2 separate regions of the Homo sapiens genome follow, and region 2 is linked to region 1. A link means that fine-mapping ties the variant in region 1 to the expression of a gene that starts in the linked region. Tissue or cell type: whole blood. Region 1 holds a variant in brackets; the other region holds the start of a gene. All regions are shown on one strand. Distances are between the middles of the regions.

Region 1 (4,399 bases):
TCCCAGTTCTTGACCCTGGTGAGATTTTATGAGGTCTTTTGGACAGTTCTCTCAGATTTTAATCAAAGTTTAAATTGTTGACAGTTGAGCATAGTGGTTTAATAGCTTCACTATCCATAGAGTCCAAAATGATATGAAGTTTATATTTAATCAATGAATTCATCTATTTCCAATGGATTTAAGGGCTTGGAGCTTGAAGGATAGTTTCACAGTTTTGATTAAAATTTTGATTTAATAAACATTGTCATAAAATTTGAAATGGTTTTGTAAGAATTAGACTGCAGTCTATTTTTCATTGTTGGTAATCCTTGTGTAATAATGCAGCACTTATTAAATAGATTCATTGCAAACCATTTTTTTTCTATATAATGACACTAAAATAAGCCTCTAGTTTTCATAGAGTTTTTATTCAAGGATCTTAGTATCTGATTTTTTTTTTTTTTTTTTTTTTTTTTGAGACGGTGTCTCGCTCTGTCGCCCAGGTTGGAGGGCAGTGGTACGATCTCAGCTCACTGCAAGCTCAGGCCATTCTCCTGCCTCAGCCTCCCGAATAGCTGGGACTATAGGGGCCTGCAACCATGCCCGGCTAATTTTTTTTGTATTTTTAGTAGAGATGGGGTTTCACTGTGTTAGCCAGGATGGTCTCAATCTCCTGAGCTCGTGATCCACCTGCCTCGGCCTCCCAAAGTGCTGGGATTACAGGCGTGAGCCACCGCGCCCGGCTGAGTATCTGATTCTTAATAAAATGACAGTTAATTTGTAGTATTTCAGGTTTTTCTTTATGCAGACATCAAAATGGGAAAACAAATTAGCTTTCATGGTTAGAAGACATTAATATTTTTGTATGTTTAAAATGTAGGTTATGAATTCACTTCTGGTAACAACTTCTGTAACCAGGCTTGAATTTGGAAACTGATTGAACAGGTTATCAGTAGTAAATCAGTTTAACTCCCTAACTCATGTGGATGGTTGTTATTAGTGGATACAAAAGAACTTTTCATGTGCAGTTATCAGAATCAGAATCCCTCTTGAACATGGCTTCACAGCCTTAGCGCTATTGATATTTTGGGCTGGTTAAGTCTTTGTTGTAGAAGGACTGTCTGTGAACCATAGAAGATTTAGTAGCATCCCTGGCCTCTGGCCAGCAAATACCAATAGCAACCCCTCTCACCCTAAGTTGTGACAGCCAGAAATGTCTCCAGATATTGCCAGATGTCCCAAATAAGGGGCAGGAAGCAAAATTGCCTCATTTGAGAACACAATCTTGGGAGAATCTGGGAGAAAATAGTAATAACTACAAATTTTTGAGGACTTGCTAGGTGCCAGATCCTTTTCATACCATAATACTTATAATTGTCTCTCAACAGGGTATAATTAACCCCATTTAATAAAAACTGTTGCTCAGAGATATTCAGTAGCTTGCCCAGGATCACGTATCTCTTTAACGAATCTGGCTTGTTTTCAGTATTTCCTATACCATTGTGTAGTACTACTATCTAACCTAGATTAGAAAGCTAGTAGTCATCAGATGAGGGAGAATGATCTCTCCTTTGTTCTCCACATCCAGTCTGTCACCAATCTTGTCTTCCTATGCCCAATCTACTTCTCTTTGTTCCTGTTGCCATCACACTATCGATGCTATCTTTCTTTTTTTTTGTTACAATATATATTTATTGACTTTATAATTTAAACATTTTGTAACTTTATTTTATTTTTATTTATTTATTTATTATTATTATACTTTAAGCTTTAGGGTACATGTGCACAATGTGCAGGTTAGTTACATATGTATACATGTGCCATGCTGGTGCGCTGCACCCACTAACTCGTCATCTAGCATTAGGTATATCTCCCAGTGCTATCC[C/A]TCCCTCCTCCCTCCACCCCACAACAGTCCCCAGAATGTGATGTTCCCCTTCCTGTATCCATGTGTTCTCATTGTTCAATTCCCACCTATGCGTGAGAATACGCGGTGTTTGGTTTTTTGTTCTTGCAATAGTTTACTGAGAATGATGATTTCCAATTTCATCCATGTCCCTACAAAGGACATGAACTCATCATTTTTTACGGCTGCATAGTATTCCATGGTGTATATGTGCCACATTTTCTTAATCCAGTCTATCATTGTTGGACATTTGGGTTGGTTCCAAGTCTTTGCTATTGTGAATAGTGCCGCAATAAACATACGTGTGCATGTGTCTTTATAGCAGCATGATTTATAGTCCTTTGGGTATATACCCAGTAATGGGATGGCTGGGTCAAATGGTATTTCTAGTTGTAGATCCCCGAGGAATCGCCACACTGACTTCCACAATGGTTGAACTAGTTGACAGTCCCACCAACAGTGTAAAAGTGTTCCTATTTCTCCACATCCTCTCCAGCACCTGTTGTTTCCTGACTTTTTAATGATTGCCATTCTAACTGCTGTGAGATGGTATCTCATTGTGGTTTTGATTTGCATTTCTCTGATGGCCAGTGATGGTGAGCATTTTTTCATGTGTTTTTTGGCTGCATAAATGTCTTCTTTTGAGAAGTGTCTGTTCATATCCTCCGCCCACTTGTTGATGGGGTTGTTTGTTTTTTTCTTGTAAATTTGTTTGAGTTCTTTGTAGATTCTGGATATTAGCCCTTTGTCAGATGAGTAGGTTGCGAAAATTTTCTCCCATTTTGTAGGTTGCCTGTTCACTCTGATGGTAGTTTCTTTTGCTGTGCAGAAGCTCTTTTGTTTAATTAGATCCCATTTGTCAATTTTGGCTTTTGTTGCCATTGCTTTTGGTGTTTTAGACATGAAGTCCTTGCCCATGCCTATGTCCTGAATGGTGACGCCTAGGTTTTCTTCTAGGGTTTTTATGGTTTTAGGTCTAACGTTTAAGTCTTTAATCCATCTTGTATTGATTTTTGTATAAGGTGTAAGGAAGGGATCCAGTTTCAGCTTTCTACATATGGCTAGCCAGCTTTCCCAGCACCATTTATTAAATAGGGAATCCTTTCCCCATTGCTTGTTTTTCTCAGGTTTGTCAAAGATCAGATAGTTGTAGATATGCGGCGTTATTTCTGACGGCTCTGTTCTCTTCCATTGATCTATATCTCTGTTTTGGTACCAGTACCATGCTGTTTTGGTTACTGTAGCCTTGTAGTATAGTTTGAAGTCAGGTAGTGTGATGCCTCCAGCTTTGTTCTTTTGGCTCAGGATTGACTTGGCGATGCGGGCTCTTTTTTGGTTCCATATGAACTTTAAAGTAGTTTTTTCCAATTCTGTGAAGAAAGTCATTGGTAGCTTGATGGGGATGGCATTGAATCTGTAAATTACCTTGGGCAGTATGGCCATTTTCACAATATTGATTCTTCCTACCCATGAGCATGGAATGTTCTTCCATTTGTTTGTATCCTCTTTTATTTCCTTGAGCAGTGGTTTGTAGTTCTCCTTGAAGAGGTCCTTCACATCCCTTGTAAGTTGGATTCCTAGGTATTTTATTCTCTTTGAAGCAATTGTGAATGGGAGTTCACTCATGATTTGGCTCTCTGTTTGTCTGTTATTGGTGTATAAGAATGCTTGTGATTTTTGTACATTGATTTTGTATCCTGAGACTTTGCTGAAGTTGCTTATGAGCTTAAGGAGATTTTGGGCTGAGACAGTGGGGTTTTCTAGATATACAATCATGTCATCTGCAAACAGGGACAGTTTGACTTCCTCTTTTCCTAATTGAATACCCTTTATTTCCTTCTCCTGCCTAATTGCCCTGGCCAGAACTTCCAACACTATGTTGAATAGGAGTGGTGAGAGAGGGCATCCCTGTCTTGTGCCAGTTTTCAAAGGGAATGCTTCCAGTTTTTGCCCATTCAGTATGATATTGGCTGTGGGTTTGTCATAGATAGCTCTTATTATTTTGAGATACGTCCCATCAATACCTAATTTATTGAGAGTTTTTAGCATGAAGGGTTGTTGAATTTTGTCAAAGGCCTTTTCTGCATCTATTGAGATAATCATGTGGTTTTTGTCTTTGGCTCTGTTTATATGCTGGATTACATTTATTGATTTGCGTATATTGAACCAGCCTTGCATCCCAGGGATGAAGCCCATTTGATCATGGTGGATAAGGTTTTTTATGTGCTGCTGGATTCGTTTTGCCAGTATTTTATTGAGGATTTTTGCATCAATGTTCATCAAGGATATTGGTCTAAAATTCTCTTTTTTGGTTGTGTCTCTGCCCGGCTTTGGTATCAGAATGATGCTGGCCTCATAAAATGAGTTAGGGAGGATTCCCTCTTTTTCTATTGATTGGAATAGTTTCAGAAGGAATGGTACCAGTTCCTCCTTGTACCTCTGGTAGAATTTGGCTGTGAATCCATCTGGTCCTGGACTCTTTTTCATTGGTAAGCTATTGATTATTGCCACAATTTC
Region 2 (4,399 bases), 80 kb before region 1:
TATTATATAAAAATAAATAACTTGAAAATTTGGTACATGATCTACATAGTTTCAAAGAACCACTTCACAAAATACTTATTATAGAAGGAAAAGAGGTACTTTACAGCAGAGAAGCTCTGCAGATGCCAGTTTATTTAAATGATCAGAATTAACATCACCTGTAATGGAACAAATGGAAATCATGCGCTACCCAACAGGATGCAGTAAGACCGCCTCACTTCTGTGATCGTCCTGCTTAAGAGGCCAAATTTGAATTTAATCACAAAAGAACCTCCGACAAACCCAAGTTGAGTGACATTCTATAACACAACTATCCTGCAATCTTCATGAAACTTTTGTAGTTAATTGTGATCATCTGACCTATTTCTGGATCATAGGATTTAAATGAAAGAAACTGAACTAGGCTTTAGGAAAAGCCATCATTTTTCTAATAAAAAATGAGGCCAGCTTAGCTAACAACGTTTACCCTTTGTCCTTTCTCTTTATTCTTGTTTATCAGATGCCGTGAACAGATGTGAAAGAATATGATACCCTGCTTGTGACTACAAATACTAAAGTCACAGACTGCAACAAAGCGAAAAAGGATAAACTATTTGGCTCCTTCAGCAATTGCACCAAGCCTGGACCAGTTACTTTTAGGCTCCTTGTTACGTTATCCTTTATTTGATTAAGCCATGTGACTGGATTCGCATTAGGTGTGGCCAAATGCAAACCTAGCCAAAATAACCTGCTTTTTCTTTCTTTTCTTTTCTTTTCTTTTTTCTATTTTAACATATCTAGTTCCCCTCTCTAACCCCAACTTTTTTTTGGGCAGTTTTATTTGTATTGCATGGTATTTACAAATTAATTGAGAAATGATTTTTTATGATGTTTTCTTCTTTAAGCACATAGTATACCTCTCCATTCGTTCTAGTCTTTTTGGGGAGCTTATGCAAGATTTTAAAGTTTTCTTCATATAACTTTGCACATTGCTCTAGACCGAATGTTTGTTTCCCCAAAATTCTTATGTTGAAATCTAATCCCCAATGTGCTGGTATATGGAGGTAGGGACTCTGGGAGGTGATTAGGTCATGAGAGCAGCACCCTCATGAATTCCTATAAAAGAAGTTCTAGAGAGATCCCTCTCCCTTTCCGCCATATGAGACACAGCAAAAATACTGCCCTCTAGGAACCAGGACACACCTTCACTAGACAGCAAATAGCCCAACACCTTGATTTTATCCAGCCTCCAGAACTGTAAGACATACTTGTTTGTTATTTATAAGCCATCCATTCTATAATATTTTGTTATAGCAGCCTGAACTGATTAAAACACACACGTTTCTAATATAATCACAGTTTATTTTTATTGAATTGATGCAAAACAGTGAAATGGATGTTTTTCTGAATTCCAAGAGAATCTGAAAAGACGTTGATGCTAGTTATGACAAATATCAGTCAATGTAGTCAGTTGATTAAATATTACAAGGTCGATTAGTAAATTACATTTTAAAATAAAATGAATACTTTCTATTGCATATCAAACAAGTAGGCATTGTGTGTTCAAGATTCAGACTCATAGAATGGTAGTGAATGTAAAAACTCTTGGAAAGCTTCTTGCAAACACACATTAAATTTTATGAAACCTGAAGAGAAAGAGTATTTACCTCAACCTGGCTTATGTTACTTATTTTTAGCGTCTTTAAGGTATCGTTTATAATTAATTCCCCAGCCTTCTTCTTCTTGTAAATGTAAGCTTAGTGTCTTATGTTCTCAAAGCACTTCATCACCTTAGAATGTCTTATTCTTCTGAACTTAAAAGTTTTATGTTTGGGCGATACATGCGTAAAACAAAACAAAGAAATCTCCGCAGAAATAAATAAGTAACTGTCCATTGTAATGAAAAATGCTTGGATGGATAAGTATGAGTAAATAATATGGGGTCAGAGGAAAAAATATAATGTAAACTTCTAACAAGTTAAGCACGGGTAAATTGTGAAGTGCAATGCAAAATTCACATGAGTGTTTCATATATTAAGTAAAATCCACCAAAACAAAACACTGAATCTTCAAGGCAATTCTGTCCTTCCTGCCAGCTGCCACTACCTTTCTGGCAGCCTCCCTTTATCCCATTCCTCCAGCACAGGGAAATGATGCTCTGGCGACAAAGGGTACTTCCGCAGAAAACTTTTGAGAGGTACCAACTTAACTTCCAAGAGCTTGTAACTTACTCCGGTGATTTTAAGACGAAATTGGTGAGAAAGCTGTTAATATAGTAAAAAGTGCATAATAAATATATACGGGTATTAATCCTGCTCACAATCGCACCCAACACCTGAAAGAATTAAACCCTCCAACACCCTTCGGGTCTTTAAAATCTGGGCTGCGGTAATCCGAGCCCTAAGCGACCTCAGATGTGCGCATGCCCTGTTGGTGGAGCCGTGCTCCTCCTTCCTCGGGTCCGGAAGTCCCGGTTTGTTTGTTAAATTACGACCGTCGTAAACTAGAATTTTCTTGCGGCTTCTTAGCTTTACGATGGCAACAAGTATGGCGGCTGCTAGTGGTAGATTTGAAAGTGCGAAGAGTATCGAAGAGCGGAAAGAACAGACCCGGAATGCCAGGGCCGAGGTGTTGCGCCAGGTACCTCTGTTTTGGGGCTTTTGTAGTTATTTATTGTTGTGGGAGTTGAGGGTTCCCGTAAGCTAGCCCACTCACCCCTTCCCTTACCTCGTCAGTACTGAATCTCACCTTAATTTGGGTGAGTTCTCCCTTTGCAATGCCGGTAAACCCTTTTGTAGCTACCGATTTTTTAGATGTTCTGGCAGGTGCCAGTTGCTAATTCTCTTTTCAGGCAGATCTGTCGCTTTTTCTCCAAGTTTCTTTACCTTTTAAGTTACCCATTCTTTACATTTCTATCACTCGGACTGCACACTTTGTAGGTCCCCTGCGGCTTGTAAGGACTCTGCCAGCATGTCTCGCAGCCTCAGTCATTGCTACTGCTGTATCTGAAATGAGATTTTCCTTTTTCGGAAACACATTCAAGTCACACTTGAATAGACTCAGTTTGACATTTCCTCCTCCTGTCTCTATTGGTATCAATTCCAGACTTACTGTAAGCTCTTACCAATCCAAACAAAAGTTAACACCAATCTCAGTATATTTAGCCTGTCACAAAAGATCGCGAAACATTGTATTTCTCACTAAACTTCAGATACATAGAGGTAACATACAAAGAATGGAGAAAGTAAGCTTCTGAATTATCTGACAATCTATTCAATATGTAAGAAGTGTGGCAATGAAAGAGAAAAGTTGCAGTTGGAGAGCAACAGAGAATTCAGTGAGGGTTTTTGTTTTTATTTAAGTTGGAAGAGTTTTAAACAAGTTTAAATGCAAATGAGAAGGAGCCAGCAGAGAAGAGGGAGAGGAGACTCTAAAGGGAAAATGACATAGTTTCAAAATTTGGCAAATAATTTGAGGGTGAAGCAGCCCCATTCTCCTTTAATCTCCAATTTTCTCACCCTGTTCTTTGGAGTCCATCATAAGCCCTGCTCTTTTCTCTGATATCGATTTTTCTGTTTGGTATATAACCATTGTATTCATCTTCTTGCCTACACCAAGAATTATTATATGCACCCAGGGAAAAGCTAGCTGCAGAATGTTGGACTACCTCTCCATGATTTTCCCTTTTCTGGAATATTAACTCTTCTAGTTCTTGTTGCTTCAGCAGTTCTCTGATATAAACCTTTAATAAATTATTTTTATATTTGATTAAAAAAAAAAAGAAAATGACTACAGCCAGGTTTTAAAGGGGAAGAGTGGGCGATTAGTCTTGGGTAGGTGAAATGTTGGTATTGTTTCGTAATTTCAACATATGTAATGTGTGTGTGTGGGTATATATATATTATTCATTCTTTTCTCTTTGGTATTTCCAGCAGTTTTTGGAGGGAGTAAGTTTCGTAAGTTGAGATAAATCTTATAGTAGAGATATGCATAGAATTTGAAAAGGACCAAACTGAGCTTTGGAGTTACAGGGAAAGAAAGAGGGCAGGAACGATTTCCTAGGAAAAACTTGCTTTGTTTGACTATCATTGAAGAATGGATAAAAATTACCAATATGATCCTTTCTTTATACAGAGATGATTCTTCCTGAGGCATTTTTGGGGCTGGGTATTGGGGCTACAGGCATTGCATATTGAAGGCGTGGAGGTCTAACTGTTGCAAAAGTCTTAAGGCAGTAGCCATGGGAATGGTGAAGGGAAAAGGGATTCCAAGTCATATTGAGCTAGGGAGCTTAGAGAGATGGGAGGGCCTGGACTCAGTCCCTGGATTCTCTCTGATTGGTAACTCAAATCACTGGAGATTGGAAATGCAGAAGGAGAGATTTTTGCTTTGTTTTGTTTATTTATTTATTTTTTTATTT

What was found. PIP is the estimated chance that this variant, and not a neighbour inherited with it, causes the effect.
Region 2: CWF19L2 starts here. The variant in region 1 is fine-mapped to the expression of CWF19L2 in whole blood (INTERVAL, PIP 0.97).

What each region holds. Positions count from the first base shown.
Region 1 is chr11:107,376,103-107,380,501 of GRCh38, reverse strand. All of the region lies in intron 12 of CWF19L2 (CWF19 like cell cycle control factor 2), which reads left to right. Among named protein-coding and RNA genes, the nearest start is that of CWF19L2, 80 kb to the left of the region's middle. The variant C/A (reference allele first, on the strand shown) is at 1,865.
Region 2 is chr11:107,455,932-107,460,330 of GRCh38, reverse strand. CWF19L2 (CWF19 like cell cycle control factor 2) reads left to right here and starts at 2,506. Exons shown (of 18, transcript NM_152434.3): 1 at 2,506-2,619. The coding sequence starts at 2,515. RefSeq lists an enhancer at 2,222-2,727.